Homo sapiens: one gene and its partner. The protein of the gene in region 1 purifies or fractionates together with the protein of each later gene. This does not show direct contact. Each region holds a gene or a part of one and is shown on either strand. Other genes may lie near its edges.

Region 1 (3,819 bases):
CCAGGATGGGACCAGAAATCTGGTTTTGCATAGAAATGGCTAGCAGCAGGCACCATGCCGCTGTCCACTCTGTGCCTGCGTCTGCCCCAGCACTTGGCACAGCAGGACAGAAGCAGAGATCTGAACCCACATCTCCCTGGCTGCTCAGTCAACTCACTCTTCACAAAGCTTAGAAAGTGGCCGGGCACAGCCAGACTCTGTCTCAAAAAAAAAAAAAGGTTGGTTGAGGCTTATACTATGTGTGCTGCTTGGCACTGTTTTTTTCACTTAAAAGATATTGCAGGTTTTTTTTCACGTAAGTATCTGAAGAAAGACTTCCTTTTTTTTTTTTTTTTTTTTTTTTTTGCTTTTTTGCTTTTTTGAGACAGGGTCTTGCTCTGTTACCCACGCTGGAGTGCAGTGGTGAGATCAGGGCTCACTGCAGCCTCCACCTCATGGGCTGAAGCCATCCTCCCACCTCAGCCTCCCGAGTAGCTGGGACTACAGGTGTGTGCAACCACATCTGGCTAGTTTCTGTATGTTTTGTGAAGATGGGGTCCCACTATGTGGCCCAAGTTGGTCTTGAACACTTGGGGTCAAGTAGTCCTCCTGCTTTAGCTTCCTAAAGTGCTGGGATGACAGGCCTGAGCCCCGCGCCCGGCCAGCCTCCTGTGCGAGGTTGTGTGGGACTCTGTCATGGAACCCAGTATGCCTTCATGTGCTGGCTTGTTTGTTGACTCTGTAGTTAATGGGCTGCCCCACGTGGACAGGCACTGGGTCATCCATGTCTCTGTGTACAGGCAGAGGCTGCTGCGGGTACATCTGTGCACATGGCTGCCAGGAGGGGCTGTGCTCAGGGGGAGCTGGGGCAGAGGCTGGTGGCAATGGGGGGCTTGGGTGTAGTGTGGAGGCACGAGAGCCAGGTGGCCGGGCTGCAGTCTGCGGGAGCTCGGGGGTCACTTGGCCTCTGTGTGTCCTAGTGTCTTTGTCGGTGAGATGGGACAATGACAGCACACCCTCACAGGTGCTGGGGGTTGACAAATGTCAGGTCTGAGGACAGTGGCTGGCCCACTACGGGGCCAGTTTCCCTTCTCTATAGTCACCCTGCTCGTCTTCCATCAACTGGGTGCTCAGGACAGTGGCGTGGTGGATCCGCCTGTACAGCCTGTGCTCCAGCGTCCTGCAGTCCACAGCTGTGTCCAGCCCTGACCCCGACTGCCGCTCTCGCCACCTCCATTTTATAGATGAGGAAACCGAGGCCCAAGGGCTTAGGGAACCCTGCTCTGAAGCACATAGTAGGGCTGCTGGGCTCAGACCCTCCCTCCCTGTGCTGAGGTGTCCTCCTCCTGCCTCAAGCCCCCCACGCCCCGAGCCCACCCTGCTCACCGGCCTCTGCCCGAGTTCCCCGCATAGTGTGGGAGTGTGGAGCATCCTAGCTTTTCCCCAGCGCCCAGTTCTTTCACTTCCACTGGAGTCCTGCAGGGACAGCTCGGGCACCATGTAGGCCCGGGTGGGCGTGGGGGTTCACCTAGCTCGGTGGTGAACAGCTGGCATGTCTCTGGGTTGCGGACGGTAAAGGCCACGTAGACCTCAGGAGCCCGCTTGTGCTCCCGGCAGGCAGCCAGCCTCTGCAGGACCCCGACCAGCGACACGATGGCTTCTGGGCAATACAGCACGTCTACGGTGAAAGTTTCAGGTTACTGAAAGGGACAAGTGGAAAGTTCCAGTTCATGCTGACCTCAGCAGCAGGGCGAGGCCAGAGAGGCAGCGGTCATATGAGACTATTAGATGCCATTTGACCATTTGGGCCATTAGATGGAAAGGCAATTATTTGGGTGAAAAAGGAGAACCCTTATTAGAGAAAGCTGCAAAAGACCGAAGCAAAAGAAAAAAATCTCCAGACTCACTGGTGTCCTTAAAAAACCAGCTCTGGTTCTCGGCCTGTCTAGAGGGCTTTCAATGACAGAAAGCCTGACCCTGCCGTGAACTTCGTGTTTCAGGTGTCTGCCGATTGGTCTGCTGGCTTGCAGGGGTGGGCCTGTGTCCCTGGCCACCGCTGGACCTGTGGGTTTCAGGGCTGGGACCCAGGACTACAGGCAGAGTTCTGTTCCACCAGAGAGGGGACTGAGTGTGCTCACAGGGGTGAGGGGTTTTCGGTGGCCCAGCCAAACAGCACCTTCTCTCAAGGGCCCTGACCTCGTACCAGAAGTGGTTGTTTTCCTCCTGCGGTCTCTGAAGGACACAGGGCATGGCTCTGGGACAGAGCCATGTGGTGACGACTGTAACGGGAGTATGCCTGTCTCCAACAACAGGGCTGTGGCTTGAAGGTCACCTTAAGAGGCACCCCTGTCCTTTGATGTCACCCTGGAGGCCCAGAGTAACTCTTCTGGAAGCCCCATCACGTCCATGCCCGACAGTGTCCATTGTTCCCTTTTCCCAGAGCCAAGAGCTGGGTAGAGCTGCAAGGACACCGCCTGCACAGGATGCCCGGGGCTGGGCATTACCTGCTGCAATGACAACATCTGGCTGGAAGGCAGAGAGCTGATGGACCATTGCTACGTCCCAGTCCAGCTGGGCCACTGTCACCCTGGGGCTGTCTAAGTTGCCAGTGATGTCTGCCTCTAATGAGAGGCCATTGAGAAGGACATTCCCTCGGAGCTGCTCGAGGATCCGGCTGTGAGGGTCGCTGAAGATGTATGCCCGGGGGCGGCACATCTTGCAGATGGCAAGGCCTGTGAGGCCGGCACCACTGCCAAGCTCTAGGACAGTCCTGGCGGGAGGAAAGGGGACCGTGTTTTCGACTGCACCAGGGTAAGCCTGCCTCGGTGCCCTGCCCTGTGCCCCAAGGTCACCTGTTAATGAAGGCTGCCGGGTTCTCGATGGCCCATTCTGCAAGGTAGAGGGCGGCATCCCATGTGACCAGGCCTGTGGTACCGTGGGAGATGATGGCTGTGCTCTTGGAGAGTGTGACTGAGCCTCCTGAGGACTGCACCAAGAGAGGGCGAGAGAGTCAGTCCAGCGATCAGAAGGCAAGTGGCTTAGAAGACAAGTAGCCATCCACCACATGGCTGAATAAACCATGACAGGACCAATCGCCACTCAGCAATGAGAAGCAGCTAACTGTTGACATACCAACAGTTGCACGGGCCTCAAGGGTGTCACGCGGCATGAAAGACACTCATCTCAGGCCACACAGGATTCCATCTATTGAACATTCCTGAGACAACGGAATTCTGGCGATGGAGCACAGGTCAGTGGTGGCCAGGGGCCAGGTGTGGCTATGAAGAGGTGGCTGCCTTGTGATGATTCAATATGCTATGTTTTTCCTTTGTGGTTTTCTGTATCTATGTTTTATCTCATTTTTTTTTTTTTGAGCTCTGTCACCCAGGCTGGAGTCAGTGGCACGATCTTGGCTTACTGCAACATCTGCCTCCTGGGTTCAAGCAATTCTCCTGCCTCACCTGCCCAGGTAGCTGTGACTACAGGCGTGTGCCACCATGTCTAGCTAATTTTTGTACTTTTTTTTGAGACACAGATTCACTCTCGTTGCCGAGGCCGGAGTGCAATAGCACGATCTCGGCTCACTACAACCTCCACCTCCCGGGTTCAAGAGATTCTCCTGCCTCAGCCTCCCGAGTAACTGGGATTACAGGCGCCCACTACCACACCCCGTTAATTTTTGTATTTTTAGTAAAGATGGATTTTCACCATGTTGGCCAAGCTGGTCTCAAACTCCTGACCTCAGGTGATCCCCTTGCCTCAGCCTCCCAATGTGCTGGGATTACAGACATGAGCCACCACGCCTGGCCTAATTTTTGTATTTTTAGTAGAGACAGGGTT
Region 2 (3,819 bases), on another chromosome or scaffold:
TGGCTAAAATTTTTTATATTTTTAGTAGAGATGGGGTTTCACCACGTTGACCAGGCTGGTCTCAAACTCCTGACCTCAGGTGATCCACCTGCCTCAGCCTCCCAAAGTGCTAGGATTACAGGTGTGAGCCACCATGCCCAGCCCCACCACACTTTTGAGTGAAGGCTAGACTCACTATCTAGCCCACAAAGTCCCCATGTGATGTGGGCTCTGCTTGCCTTTTCCACTTTACCTCATGCAGCTCTCCCACTTCACTCACCTTGCTCTGTCCTTCGGTCACCTTCCTTCAATTCCTCAAAAATTATAAATTATTTATTGCCCCAGGGCCTACAAACTTGGGTTCCTTTTCTGGCTGAAACATTCTCCCTAGCTCTTTTCACAAGACTGGCTCCTTCTCAGACTGCAGTTCACCTTCCCTATAACATAGCTGTCTGGCACACAGTAGGAGCTTACCAGGTATTTGTGAAAGGAACAGATTTCACATTCTCCAGTCAGGTAACTCCCAAAAGTGAATATCTGGAATCAATCTCACCCTTCAGATCAGTGCTTCATTTCTAAATGCCTGCTAAATTTCCATACCTCAAACTTAGCATACTAGATATAAAACCAACTCTTCCATTTTCCCAAACCAGTTTCTCCAGTTTTCTGAAATTACATGAGCAATATGATCCAGTTTCCACTTCAGAACAATAAATTTCCCATTCATTTGCTCTACCTGTCCAAAATTCCAATCACCTTTAAAGCTAAATTCAAATATCACTTCATTCAATCATGCATTCAATCAACCACTTATTCATTCAACAAGTACTTACTGAGTGCCTTTTATGAGGCAGACACTATGTTAGATACTCGAAAGCAAAGCAGATGTATTTTTGTCTATTATACATCAAACAATCATATAAATATTGAATTATGAACTAAAAAAAAAGTAATGAAGGAAAAATGCCAGAAAACATGAGAAAAAAATGAGAGGCATCAAGAAACACTGTTCTGATGATGGGCTGATTTAATGAAATATAATTTACACTAGGCAGACTGGAAAGAAGAGCATGCTAGATAGGATTCAATCAAGTCCTAGAAGCAGGAGAGATGAGATCTATCTCAATGTACATATCATCTTGCCTTACATATTATATCTATCTATCCCCCCCCACCATACTCATTTTACTGATAGTTACCTGAAAGAAAGGACATAGAGTGTCTCTTATGTGCCAACACAACACCCCCAGGAGACACTGAGTCACTGGTCTGGTACCTAGGAGCTTATGCTTGTAAAAAGCTCCCAGATGACTCTATATGCAGCCAAATTTGTAAATCATATGCCCAAACTACCCATTTAATAAACATATATTGATTATTCTTTCATGAAAAATCTCTAAGGTCAGTGTGGTAAATTGTATCTAAAATTGGTGGTAGGCCAGGTGCGGTGGCTCACGCCTGTAATCCCAGCACTTTGGGAGGCCAAGGCGGGCAGATCATAAGGTCAGGAGTTCAAGACCAGCCTGACCAACATGGTGAAACCCCGTATCTACTAAAAATACAAAAATTAGCCAGGCGTGGTGGCAAGCAACTGTAATCCCAGCTACTCAGGAGGCTGAGGCAAGAGAATCACTTGAACCCGGGAGGCAAAGGTTGCAGTGAGCCGAGATTGCGCCACTGCACTCCAGCCTGGGTGACAGAGCGAGACTCTGTTTCAAAAAATAAAGTTGGTAGTAATAATCCCAATCACATTGCATGCCCTTTTGCAATGTGATTTTTACCCTCTATCCTTTAGAGGTGAAGTCAATGTCCCCTCCTCTTGTATCTGGGCTATAATTGTGACTTACTCTGACAAAAAGAATGGGGCAAAAGTGATGATGTATGACTGCCAGGCCTAGGTCTTATGAGATCCTGCAGCTTCCATTATGGCCCAGCCACCATGTAAAAGAAGCTCGAGCTAGAATTTTTTTTTTTTTTTTTTTTTGAGACGGTCTCGCTCTGTCACCCAGGTTGGAGTGCAATGGCACAATCTTGGCTCACTGCAACCTCCGCCTCCCATGTTCAAGCAATTCTCCTGCCTCGGCCTCCCAAGTAGGTGGGATTACAGGTGCCCACCACCATACCCAGCTAATTTTTGTATTTTTAGTAGAGACGGGGTTTCACCATGTTGGTCAGGCTGGTCTGGAACTCCCGACCTCAGGTGATCCACTCACCTCGGCCTCCCAAAGTGCTGAGATTACAGGCATGAGCCACTGCGCTCGGCCACTCGATATAGGTTTATAAGTGATGAGAGACCAAGAAAGAGAACTCACAGAGAACCAAGATATCCCAGCCAACAGCTAGCTCCAAAGGTACAGACATGTGCAGCCTTCTTGGATCCTCCAGCTCAATCAGCATCATATGGGACAAAAAAAAATATGTCCTCCTTTCCTGAATTACTAACCCACAAAATCATAGGCAATAAAATGGTTGTCATGTTATGCCACCAAAAGTCTTCGGGTAATTTGTCACACAATAGACAACTGAAACAGTCAGAAATTCAACACTCTCTTGGGCAGTCATTCAAACATTTCCCCACTTTGATGATCAAAAAATTCTTTCTCGTATTCATCAAAATTGCTCCTCCTTCAATTTAAGACCATTTCCTCTTAAATCTTTGAAGTTCATGAAGAATAATTAATAAAAATCCCCCTGGCAAAACTATTCTTGTATTTGAAGATGATAATGAAGTTATCTCTTAGCTTTTCTTTCTCTAGGCTAAAATCTTTCCCCCCTTTTTAAAACTTATAATGATAAGACCTGTTTTTCAACCTTTTAATCATTTTAATTATCCTCTCAAGTATGAGAGACCCAAAATTGAACACCATATGCCAATATCTAACAGAGATTATTTCCTAGCTCTAATGGTTCAGCTTTTTATAATGGAATTTCTCATAGTCCCAAATATGGCATTTTAGCACTCCAAAAGTTGTGAAGTGATCTAAAAAGTTAATTACTTACTATAACTGTAAAAGGTTTTCTGCCCTTAACACTCAGCTTACTCCATTTTGGGATGACCGCTTTCACTCACCAGCCTGGTTTGATACTCCACCAGGGCAGCAGGTTTTCACAACTTCCAGATATTTGAAGTATAAAAGAAAAACCTGAGAGGTTGGAGTACGCACACCATTAATTTCAATCAAGGTCTCTAACCACAACCAGGGCCTTCCCATAGGTCAGGCAGGTTCAGAGTACCTCCTCCTCCTACCTTGATGATAAAGTGGCCTTGTAAAAGGCAAGACCGTTAGCACTTGCCTATCGAGCAAAGGCACCATTTCTGTGGAACCTGATAGAGTATATTTAACTACTATATTAAGAGACAAACCAGCTGCTTAATGCAGTGTAAGAACCATGTTTTCTCTCTGAGTCTTACCTAAATGTATATATGCTTTGGTATCAGACTAGCTTTATAATCACTGGTAAAATAGGGATAATAAATAAAGCCTACCCAACGCAAATAAAACCATATGAGGGAAATAATTTTGTAAAACACCATAAAAATGTCGTGATATTGCGGGACTAGATCTCAGCAAACCCTTTAAATCTTCAAATTAACTTTGAATGATTACTTGATGGTGGCAGGTAACACATACAAAATAAGCAGCCATGGGCTCATGTTCATCAAATAGGAATGAAAAACCATGCCATCTAACAAAAAAGCTTCTAATATTGCAAAGAATAACGGTTTGAGCCCGGAGATCCACGTCAGCCACTCTCTCTGATGGTGCCAAGCTCTAGTCCAGGGACACCAAGTTCAGTCAAAGAACTCAACAGTCTAGTGGAAGAGACAGACAGTGCTGT

Evidence for each region.
Region 2: the proteins of FAM86B2 (region 1) and RFFL purify together in Homo sapiens (co-immunoprecipitation; one large-scale study listed by IntAct). This does not show direct contact.

Annotation. Positions count from the first base shown.
Region 1 is NC_000008.11:12,426,150-12,429,968, forward strand, and holds part of FAM86B2 (putative protein N-methyltransferase FAM86B2), read right to left. Parts: intron 2,966-3,819; coding exon 2,832-2,965; intron 2,750-2,831; coding exon 2,484-2,749; intron 1,658-2,483; coding exon 1,508-1,657; intron 1-1,507.
Region 2 is NC_000017.11:35,057,076-35,060,894, forward strand, and holds part of RFFL (E3 ubiquitin-protein ligase rififylin), read right to left. Parts: intron 1-3,819.